Regions from separate parts of the Homo sapiens genome. Here region 1 is linked to region 2. The links come from fine-mapping of genetic effects on gene expression. A gene starts in region 2. The other region holds a variant in brackets. All regions are shown on one strand. Distances are between the middles of the regions. Region 1 overlaps CAGE1 (cancer antigen 1). Region 2 holds the start of RIOK1 (RIO kinase 1).

Region 1 (5,378 bases), 48 kb before region 2:
ATTCACAGATTCTAGGGATTAGAACATGGATTTGCCATTTACTTTTACCTGCCATTTTTAGCAGTATACACTGTACCCAATTTGTAATCTTTTATCCCTCACCCCCTTCCACTCTTTCCCCCAAGTCCCCAAAGTCCACTGTATCATTCTTTTTTTTTTCTGTCTTTGTACAATATTTTATAAAGGTCTTTACAGAGCAACATCCAGACTCCAGAATACAGCTGCCAAGGAGATCCTGTTATGCTGTGGTGACTGAGGGCACGGCAGGAGGCTCTGGCTTCCCACCCTTCTGTTCTGAGATGGGGGTGGTGGGCAGTTATCTCATCTTTGGGTTCCACGATGCTCACGTGGTCAGGCAGGGGCTTCTTAGGGCCAATCTTACCAGTTGGGTCCCAGGGCAGCATGATCTTCACCTTGATGCCCAGCACACTCTGTCTGAGCAACACATGGCGCACAGCAGTGTCAACGTAGTAGTTAACAGGGTCTCTGCTGTGGATCATCAGGCCGTCCACAAACTTCATGGATTTAGCTCTCTGTCCTCAGAGTTTCCCAGACACCACGACCTCACAGCCTTTGGCCCCAGTTTCCATGATGAACCGCGACACACCATAGCAGGCCCTCCGCACAGCAAGCCCTCCTAGGAGTTTGTAAGGCAGAGACTCTGCCTGGGCAATGGCACACAGACCCCTAGTGGCCACCTCTTCAGCATAAAGCTCTACACTGCCCTCTGGAGAGCCAAACCTCTTCTGAACTACAGCAGTCAGTTCCCGAATCCGCCGGCCCTTCTCACCAAGAACATTCTGTGTTCTGGTGGCTAAGACAATGATTTCTGTCCTGGTTGGTGTAACTCGCATCTCAACTCCAGAGTAGCCATCTTCAGCCAGCTCCTGAGTAAGAAACTCATTCATTTCAGCTTAGAAGATGCCATCAGTGACAAACTTCCTCTTCTTGGAAATTTGTAAGGCGATCTTGCCGCCATGCTCCGCTGAAAGGAAAGGCACTGTATCATTCTTATGCCTTTGTGTCCTCATAGCTTAGCTCCCACTTATGAGTGAGAACATATGATGTTTGGTTTTCCATTCCTGAGCTACTTCACTTAGAATAATGGTCTCCAATTCCATCTAAGTTGCTGTGAATGCCATTATTTCATTCCTTTTTATGGCTGAATAGCATTCCGTGGTGTATATATATACCACAATTTCTTTATCCATTCATTGATTGATGGGCATTTGGGCTGGTTCCATATTTTGGTAATTTCAAATTGTGCTGCTATAAACATGCATGTGCAAGTATCTTTTTTGAATAATGACTTCTTGTCCTCTGGGTAGATACCCAGTAGTGGGATTTCTGGATCAAATGGTAGTTCTACTTTTAGTTCTTTAAAGACTTTCCACACTGTTTTCCACAGTGGTTATACTAGTTTACTTTTCCACCAGCAGTGTAGAAGTGTTCCCTTTTTACCGCATCCTTGACAACATCTGTTATTTTTTGATTTTTTGATTATGGTCATTCTTGCAGGAGTAAGGTAGTATCACATTGTGGCTTTGATTTGCATTTCCCTGATCATTAGTGATGCTGAGCATTTTTTCATACGTTTGTTGGCCATTTCCATATCTTCTTTTAAGAATTGTGTATTCATGTCCTTAGCCCACTTTTTGATGGGATTGTTTTTTTCTTGTTAATTTGTTTGAGTTCCTTGTAGATTCTGTATATTAGCCCTTTGTCAGATGTACGGAGTGTGAAGATTTTCTCCCACTCTGTGGGTTGTCTGTTTACTTTGCTGATTATTGCTTTTGCTGCGCAGAAACTTTTAATTAAGTTCCACCTATTTATCAGTTTTTTAAGAGAACATAGAATTTATTAGATATTGAATATAAAAATAAACCATCTAAATAGGGGCCCAGGGAGCTTCCTTTATTTCTGTAGGTGCCTCCAGGCCTTCCCACCCCAACCCCAATAAAAACATTTTGCATATATAATATCTAGCAAACACTAAAAAGATGCAAAGCTTCCAAAGACAGCAGGCACTCAGCTTAAGGAGGGTGATGACTGGGTCAGATGAGATCTTCCTGGAGGAGCCCACAATTTTCTTAGTTGCAGCACTGACAAAAATACACCCCAGGCTTCTGGACCAGGGGCTGACATTAGGGGGTCCCTGAGCAAGTGATGGGCTAGAGCTACTCGTTGGGAGGCAGACAGTCTACTCCCTCAATGCATCTTCCAACTGCTTCACTAGCAAAGCCTGCTTCTGTTCCTGCAGCACACCACAGAACTGATGTATGGCCAATTTTAGCCGGGGGGAGCTCGTCTGCAAAGATGAGGTGGAACCGGCCTGGCTCCTTATACATACAGGCTTTGCCACAGGATAACAACAGCTTGTTGTCCAGGAAGCGGAGAGAGGAGCTGTTGCTCTTCAAATGTACAGGGATCCAGGTACTTTTTCAAGTTGATCCAGATATAGAGGCCAGAGCTGCAGCTGTGAAAGGGGATCTCCAATGCCTTTAGCTTGGCAGTGATGTACTTGTGAGCTTCCCACAGCCGGTAGTTATTGGTGGGCAGGTACACTTTGTCAATCCATTCTGTGTTCTGGAGCAGTTGACACAGCTTGTGCTAGGTGATGCCAGAGATACTGTGGAGGTAGCCAAAGGTGCTCACAGCAGAAGCCATCTCCTTGTGGTGGGTGTAAACAGAGTACCAAAGAGGAAGCCAGAGATGCCAAAATCCTTACTGGTGTCCCAGATCACATGGGTCCTGTTGTGATCAGGCAGACTTTTCATGCTTAGGACACTGTGGAATGTGATGGATTCATCAAAAACACAGATAGCATGTAAATCTCATCTATGATCACATGTAGGTTATACCTCTTGGCAAATTCCAGGTATTCCATCGCGAGTCTGAGGAGTAGATGTCACCCAGAAGATTCTGAGGGTTGATTAGCACAAGGCCTCGGACCTTTTTCCTCTCAGGCCTAGCTTTAAGCAGGGCTTCCTCTAACTTGTCCACAGCAAGGTGGAACAGATGGGTGTTTGCAACAGTGATCTCACTCTCCAGGTGGACAGGAATCAACTCAACCTTCACGTACAGGCAGGAGCTAAAGTCAAAGCCACTATAGAAGGGAGCAGGCGCCAGGAAGGCCTCGCTTGGATCACACAGAACCATGGCCAGTGCAGAGAAGACAGAGCAGCAGCCATTTAGAACAACCACATTTTCTGGATCAAGTCGGGCAGGTGCCTTGCACTAGTAGGTCAGGAACTGGGCCACTTCTTCTTGCAGGAACGGGTGCCCTCTCCAATCAGGGTA[C/T]TGCAGCAAGATGTCCTCAATGCCGTTCGTGTCACTTTCTTGCAATCTTTCAGTCATCAGATCTATGCAGAGCTTGTTCTCACTGGTGCCAAGGTTAACGAAGCTCAAGGTGTTCTTGTCCTTATGATATTTGTCTTTTTGGTAGGCATTGTAGTCCTGGAAGCTCGACTAATAGAAGACAGAGATGTCAATCCCACAGTTGGATAGGTCACGGCTGATGAAGGCAGCTTCACAATCACTCAGTTGGGGAACTGGATCAGGCTGCCTGGACAGTTGGGCCCCCTGCCCATATCTGACATCACCCCTAGAGTCCTGGGAAGGAAGAGGCACTTGGAGCTCCAGGCCACTTATGGCCCCAGACTATAGGAGCTGGATCATCTGGCACATTAAGCGACCCAGAAGGGCTTCATGCTCACGGATGGCCTGAGTGTGCCTCCATTCTTCCAGCGGCAGGGCCCTGCCTGCTCATCAGCTGCATGAAGTACTCCCTCATGGTCTACCGCAAGTGCAGCATCATCTCAACAGCTGGGTATAGATGCTCTGGTCTCTGAGGACCTGGCCTCTCATCTGGCCAGATGGCACAGGAAGGGTGTCTGACTGATGACTCATACTCCGGGTATCTGTAGTGGCTCCTGCAGGCTGGCTGTCACCTCTGTCTCTGTTTTCACTTATCTTCTCTCCAGTCTAAAGCCTCACTGAACAAACTGTCCTTGACTGTCAGTGCTCAGGGAACTGCTCTGCCACCCTTCTCCTCAATGAATGTGTTAATCATTGTTTTTGTTGCATTTGCTTTTGGGTTCTTGGTCATGAAGTCTTTGCTTAAGCCAATGTCGAGAAGGGTTTTTCTGATGTTATCTTCTAGGATTTTTATGGTTTCAGGTCTTAGATTTAAGTCCTTGATCCATCTTGAGTTGATTTTTGTATATAAGTTGAGAGATGAGGATCCAGTTTCATTCTTCTACATGTGGCTTGCCAATTATCCCAGCACCATTTGTTGAATAGGGTGTGCTTTCCCCACTTTATGTTTTTGTTTGCTTTGTTGAAGATCAGTTGGCTGTATTTATGCCAACCCTTTTTTCATTAAAAAAGAAGCCTGGCCAACATAGTGAAACCCTGTCTCTACTAAAAATACAAAAAAATTAGCCAGGTGTGGTGGTGGGTGCCTGTAATCCCAGCTACTTGGGAGGCTGAGGCAGGAGAATCGCTTGAACCCGGGAGGTGGAGGTTGCAGTGGGCTGAGATGGCACCACTGCACTCCAGCCCAGGCGACAGTGCGAGACTCTGTCCCACAAAAAAAAAAAAGAAAAGAAAAGAAAAGAAAAAGAAGTCAAAGAAATACAATGGGATTGTGACTATAAATAAGGGCAGTACTAATGTTGTTTTTACTATATACTGAAATGCAGCTTTCTGTGGGGTTTACAAGTTTTAGGGGTAAACAAATGTTCACCTTATTCTCTATGATCAAGGTATAAAATCACATGGATTTTTAAAAGAATGTTCAATCCAATCAAACTTTTTGATCATTCTGTACTCAAAGTATCATGAAACTTAGAAAGAAAGGTTGTGGATTTACACTGAAATTTTCTGTTATTTTTGATATGGTTTTGCATGGAAAAACATTTACAGGGGCTTCATGTGGGTAGAAATAACAGTTGCTGTGACAGGGCAGTGAGTTGTCATTTATGAATTCAGTGTTGTCTGTAGGAGATATGGCATGGAAGTATTCTTCCAGGACTCTGTTGGCATTCTGTGGATGGTGAATAGTAAATAAGTTAATGCAGATTTTGATGAGTGACTTCAAAAACTACAGATTATGATCAGGGATCATATAATGGGTAGGAATGGAATAGAAGGTCACCTTGAATAACAAGGTAGCAGGGCTTGAGAAAATGGGAAGCCAGGACAGGAAATGAACTGGAACATTTTTATAAGAGGATCGACCTCTCACCAGGATGATGTAATGATTGTGATGGGGACAAAGATAGAACAAGTCTCATTTTGTAGGCAGGTGCTCCTTCCTACAAAGGAAGAAATGGGATAGATTCATCAAAAACACAGACAGCACGTAATGTTGTTTG
Region 2 (5,378 bases):
ACTCCTGGCTAGAAAGGATCAGTTTTAACACTGTGTGTAAAAATGTACCTTGCTCTCTCGCATAGGCTGGAGTGCAGTGGCGCGATCTTGGCTCCCTGTAACCTCTACCTCCCAGGTTCAAGTGATTCTCCTGTCTCAGCCTCCAGAGTAGCTGGGATTACAGGTGCTCGCTTCCATGCCTGGCTAATTTTTATATTTTTAGCAGAGATGGGGTCTCACCATGTTGCCCAGGCTGGTCAAAATGTATCTTACGCTAGCGAAACTGGGAAAACCAGACCCTGTATTCCCCTCCTTTATGTGTCCACCGAATATTGTTTTATTGTTCCTTATAGTTTTGAAGAAATTTTCATATGGAAGACAATGTGAATTCTGAATACATCTGAGCCTCCTGGAACTTATAAGCAATGCACACCTGAGGCAAGTCACAAGTGGTGCCGGTGGTTTCCATACAGATTGGAGAATGTGAAAGCATTACACCTTGAGAAAGATTGCTGACATTCATGGTATCCGATTCTGACATGCTTTCTACTTTTTCATGAGAAGTATCCACTTCAAAATGTACAGGATCTGAAGGTGATGACCAAAATTTTTGATAGTCCTTGTTCATAACTGTTGAACAATAGAAGACTTCTTTAAAAAAAAAATGTGTCTATTAGTAGGTATAAACAAAAAGTTTTTTCCCTATCCCTCTTCTCATTAAGAAAGTAGCAAAGTTCACTGCCCTTATTTGAAATGTCATTTGTCAAGTTATTAGAAAAATTAAAAATTTTAGTCTGAGTATACCGTAATTTGGTATGGTAGTAAATACTGATTTGGAGAAAAACAAACAGTATTGGCTACTATCCAATAACTCCCTAGAAGGCTTTGGACCTAGAAGTGAAGGGATCTCTGTGTTATTTAATCAAGGATATTTACAAAATATTATCAGAGACCTAATAGTTTCCACAAAATCCTGGATTTTTATTTACTTGATACCTTCCACTTGAACACCTCACTACCAAGTCAAACCCAGCATTGTAACTGTTTTCCCTCCTCACTTTCCTATACTGCGCCTATTCCCTCAGGTACATGTGTTTGAAAACTGGACTTGTCTTGGCATCCCTCTACCTCATCATGCATGGCTATTCAGATACCAAGTCCCGTCCATGTCTCCTTTAAAAATGTCTTTCAGGGCCGAGCGCGGTGGCTCACGCCTGTAATCCCAGCACTTTGGGAGGCCGACGCGGGCGGATCACGAGGTCAGGAGATCGAGATCATCCTGGCTAACACGGTGAAACCCCATCTCTACTAAAAATACAAAAAAAAAAAAAAAAAAAAATTAGCTGGGCGCGGTGGCGTGTGCCTGTAGTCCCAGCTACTCTGGAGGCTGAGGGAGGAGAATGGCGTGAACCCCGGAGGCAGAGCTTGCAGTGAGCCGAGATGGCCCACTGCACTCCAGCCTGGGTGACAGAGCAAGACTCCATCTCAAAAAAAAAAAAAAAAAAAAAAAGTCTTTCAGTAACCTGTGCTTTCTTTCCATCCCATGTTGCCACACTGGTCCATATTCTCCTGACTTCCTCAGGCCTGTCCAGAGCTCCAGAGCTGAGAGTGGAAAGGATGGCCACTCACATTGATTCTATAAATTTTTGTCCTTCCAGGCCATCCATAGCCTGGAGTGACATCCCCTACCCGGTACTCCCCTGCTCTACTCAGATCAGGCTCATTTCCCTGCAGACAGATAATGTTCCTTACGAATTAAGCTTCAGTCATCTGCCCTGGCACGTGCTTCTCTCCTAAAACCTTCCCATCTACCCATTCATCTATTTTCAAAATTCCTACAATGTCTTCAGTCTCTAAATCTCTATCTTACAATTCAGCACTTGGTGATTTCGTTTACTGTTTTAGAGCTTCACCACTGTTTCAAGGGTGTTAGTGTTTGTGTTTACAGATCATAAATGTCTTGAGAGGAGCATACTTAGGGCTTTCCAATATCCCCTACTGCAAATGGACCAGTGCTGTCTACACAGCAAATATTGATTGAATAAAACCTGCATTCCAATGACTTATTTCTATCAAGCTCTTTCAATTTATAGTCATTACTCATCTGCCTGGATTCTTTTATTGAATTTCTGAATGAATAGTTTATTGAAAATTAGTTGTTTTCAAACCTATGTCATCACTTGGTAAAATATAAAAAAGTAAGCCAAGCAGACCAGTCAGGATCAGTGAAAGGCCCAACTTTATGCTCACTTCTCCCTTGTCTTTCAAATAATGCTGCCTGGATTGTGGTGAGATCTGAAAAATTCTTGCTTTGTTTTCCCAATGCAAAAAAGCGCAAAGGCCTTGTTTCTTAGTTTTCTTGTTTGTGAACCCAGCACTTCCAATTACATTTCTACAACTTTGTTCATCCCTCATGTGGCACTGCACAATCTGCCAGTTTACCTTTTTAATTTAAAGTTAGACTATTTTTTCCATCTTTCATTTGTCCTTACAGGTTTATGTTGGATTTTTAACATATTTATCAAATGTTTGAATAGATGTTCCAGAGACATTCTAAAGCTGTTTTAAGATAGGAGTTAAAAGAGGTGTCACGGGAGTTACTCGCAAAAACTATAGTTTTGTTTAAAAGCTTTTTCAGTTGTAAGACAAACTTTACCTTTTTAAAAAGCACTTATCTCATTCATTTTTCACCTCAAAACGAGACACCAAACTTTTTAAGACACAAAAGTGTGCTCACTTCCAGGATCCATAGTTTCTTGGACCCACGCTACGGACCTGGCTCTCCCTCCCTCTGCACCGGGTTTTGTGGGAGGGAGAACGCTTTCCAACCTCCTCCACCAAGGACTCTCACAAACTCGCAATCGGGCTCCCGGAGTGCTGGAACGCCCCTGTGTGACGTCCGCCCGCGCCGGGGGAACTCCGCAGAGACAGGTGCAGCCCGCGAGGCCCGAGCGACCCTACTGTGGGTGCGGTGTCTTCCCAGAGAGTGGTGAAGTTAGGAAGGTACGACCCCCTAGGCCGAACAGCCTGTGGGCTAGCTGGCGCCTCCTGCCGCAGTAAACACAAAGTGGGGTACAGAAACGAAAACTCCGGGAAGAAACGGCCAGCACGGGCCTCGCCGTGCCGGCTACTCAACACGCCTTCCTGAGAGCACAGAACATCCACAGCCCTATACAGCGCGCCATCCAGAGAGCTCCGGACTCCCAGCTCGGCGCAGGGGCGGGACTTCCGCTCAAGTCAGACTTCCGGGCGAGGCGGTGAGGGGCTTCCGGTTGGGGTGGCAGGGTGGTGGATCTGTCGGTCCCGTTTTCCCGTCGCACGTGGTGGCCACTGTTGGCTTCTGAATGGTTTGCAAGGCGGATATCCACGCCAAGGCCTTTGGATCGGCCGTGGGTACATCCGTCTGAGCCGTTCCTTTCCATCGCAGAGCGGCGGCCTCCGGCGGCGCTCTCCAGTCATGGACTACCGGCGGCTTCTCATGAGCCGGGTGGTCCCCGGGCAATTCGACGACGCGGACTCCTCTGACAGGTAGGCGGCCGTACAGTGCCCTGGCTCTGGGTACGGCTCTCTCCTTGACCGCCCCCTTGGGGTGTGGACTCTTGTTTGCGGTTTAGAGGGAGACTAGTGGTTCATCACTCAGCGTCTCTCTTGACAACCCTTTGCCTGTTTCTGCATCCCAGCTGGGTTTTTCTCCCAGTTCACGCGGCAGAGTTAAGTGAAAGCTACTTGTCAAGGGAGTCTGCGGTTCTCAGGTCGGTTAGCGTCACTGGGAGGCAGAGTTGGGGATAGCGATTAGGAAACATGGGTTTTTGCGTTTTAACCACATTTAGCGTTCAACAAATACTTACTAAGCACTTAATATGTACCACGTTCTGTCCTGGGCGCCGGAGGTAACAAGAAGAACCAACTTCCTGCTGTCATGGAACTTTACCTTCTACGTGAAAGAGAGGGCACACCATTTAAAAACCAAATAATGATGTAGACTATGCAAATCGTTTGATATACCAAGTGGTGACTGAATGGGTAGGGAAAGGTTAAGTCCAGATTTGAATGACAAGGAGCTAATCCTGGCAAGAGCAGAGGGAACAGCATTTCACACAGAAGGGACAGCAAGAGCAAAGGCCCCGAGGCCAGAGTGCCTAGAGCACAGTGGAGGTAGTTGAGAAGATTGGTAGGGTGATAGAGAAGTAAGAAGGGGGGCCAGATCATGGAGACCTTTACAAGTGATGGTGAAAAGTTCAGATATTAATGTGGGTCTTATGGAAAGCCATAGGAGGGATTTTAGCAGAAGAATGACATTATTTGCTTGGTGATTTAAAGGAATCATTCTTTCTAGGTAGATGATGTTCATGGAGGGTGGGAGTGGAACAGAGAGACCAGTTCAAAAATAATAAGGTAATCAGATTCAAAGATGGTGGGGACTAGAGCCCAGATCCTAAAGATATGTCTTGGAGGTAGAAGTGGCAGCGTTTGGTGGTAGACTGGACGTGGAGTCTGGGGAAAGAGGGATGAAGGATAACTCCTGCCTAAAAGCAAAATGAAACATATTGGAGTTATTTTGGAATTCCAAGAAAACAGCTTGTACTTTATGTTTACAGTAAGGATTCATCACATGCGGATTTTGTTAATTATTGGGGATGTTTTCAATAAATATATGTATGTTGAATGCTTTCTGTGAGTCAGATCTAGTCTTAGGTGGTAGGGAGGCATTGGTAAATACCATCCTGAATGACACAGAGCTTGCACCCTAGCAGGGGAAACCGATATTATTAAATAATTAGACTATTTGTATTCGAATTGGGTAAGTAGTACAAAGGAGAAGTGGGGGAAAAATAGGGAAGACTTCCTTGAGCAAGTGATAGTGAGCTGATACTTGATGGATGAGTAGGGGTTAGCCAGAGAAAGAGGAAGGGCATTCCAGTTTTATGGTTACGGAGAAGTGTACAAAAAGCTTTAGAGAAGAAAAGCAGCAGAAGAAACACAGCCAGCATAGCTAGTGGGTAGTTAATGGTAATGAGAGGGCACTAATTTACCATCCACCCCAGGGTATTGTAAGGATACACCAGTGATTTTCCATTGGGGAAGATGTTGCCATCCCGACTTCTACCCAGGGGACTTTTGGCAATTTCTGGAGACGTTTTTGTATGTCACAGCTGGGGGTGGTGGTACATTAGTGGCATCTGGTAAGTAGAGGCCAGAGATATGCTGCTAAAAATCCTACAGTGCAGAAGACAGTCCCCCACAACGAAGAATTATCTGGCAAAGTTACAACTTTAACATGCCACTCTAGGCAATTATATATCAATCTGTGGAGCATATGTATGAAGTCCTGGTAAGTAGCAAGTGTTTGATGATTGTCTGTTTTCTTCCTCCACATGTCCACGGGGAACCCTCAGAGC

What was found. PIP is the estimated chance that this variant, and not a neighbour inherited with it, causes the effect.
Region 1: its variant is the best candidate, but not a certain one, in a credible set for the expression of RIOK1 in esophagus mucosa (GTEx, PIP 0.67).

What each region holds. Positions count from the first base shown.
Region 1 is chr6:7,338,601-7,343,978 of GRCh38, forward strand. All of the region lies in intron 11 of CAGE1 (cancer antigen 1), which reads right to left. It also overlaps the pseudogene RPS3P4 and the pseudogene ACCSLP1. Among named protein-coding and RNA genes, the nearest start is that of SSR1, 28 kb to the left of the region's middle. RefSeq lists a silencer at 3,811-3,973. The variant C/T (reference allele first, on the strand shown) is at 3,301.
Region 2 is chr6:7,386,567-7,391,944 of GRCh38, forward strand. It overlaps RIOK1 (RIO kinase 1), which reads left to right and starts at 3,242. Exons shown (of 17, transcript NM_031480.3): 1 at 3,242-3,507. The coding sequence starts at 3,437. CAGE1 (cancer antigen 1) reads right to left here and starts at 3,176. Exons shown (of 14, transcript NM_001170692.2): 1 at 2,636-3,176; 2 at 413-630. The coding sequence starts at 607. RefSeq lists enhancers at 2,855-2,914, 2,925-2,974, 3,105-3,524, 3,128-3,914.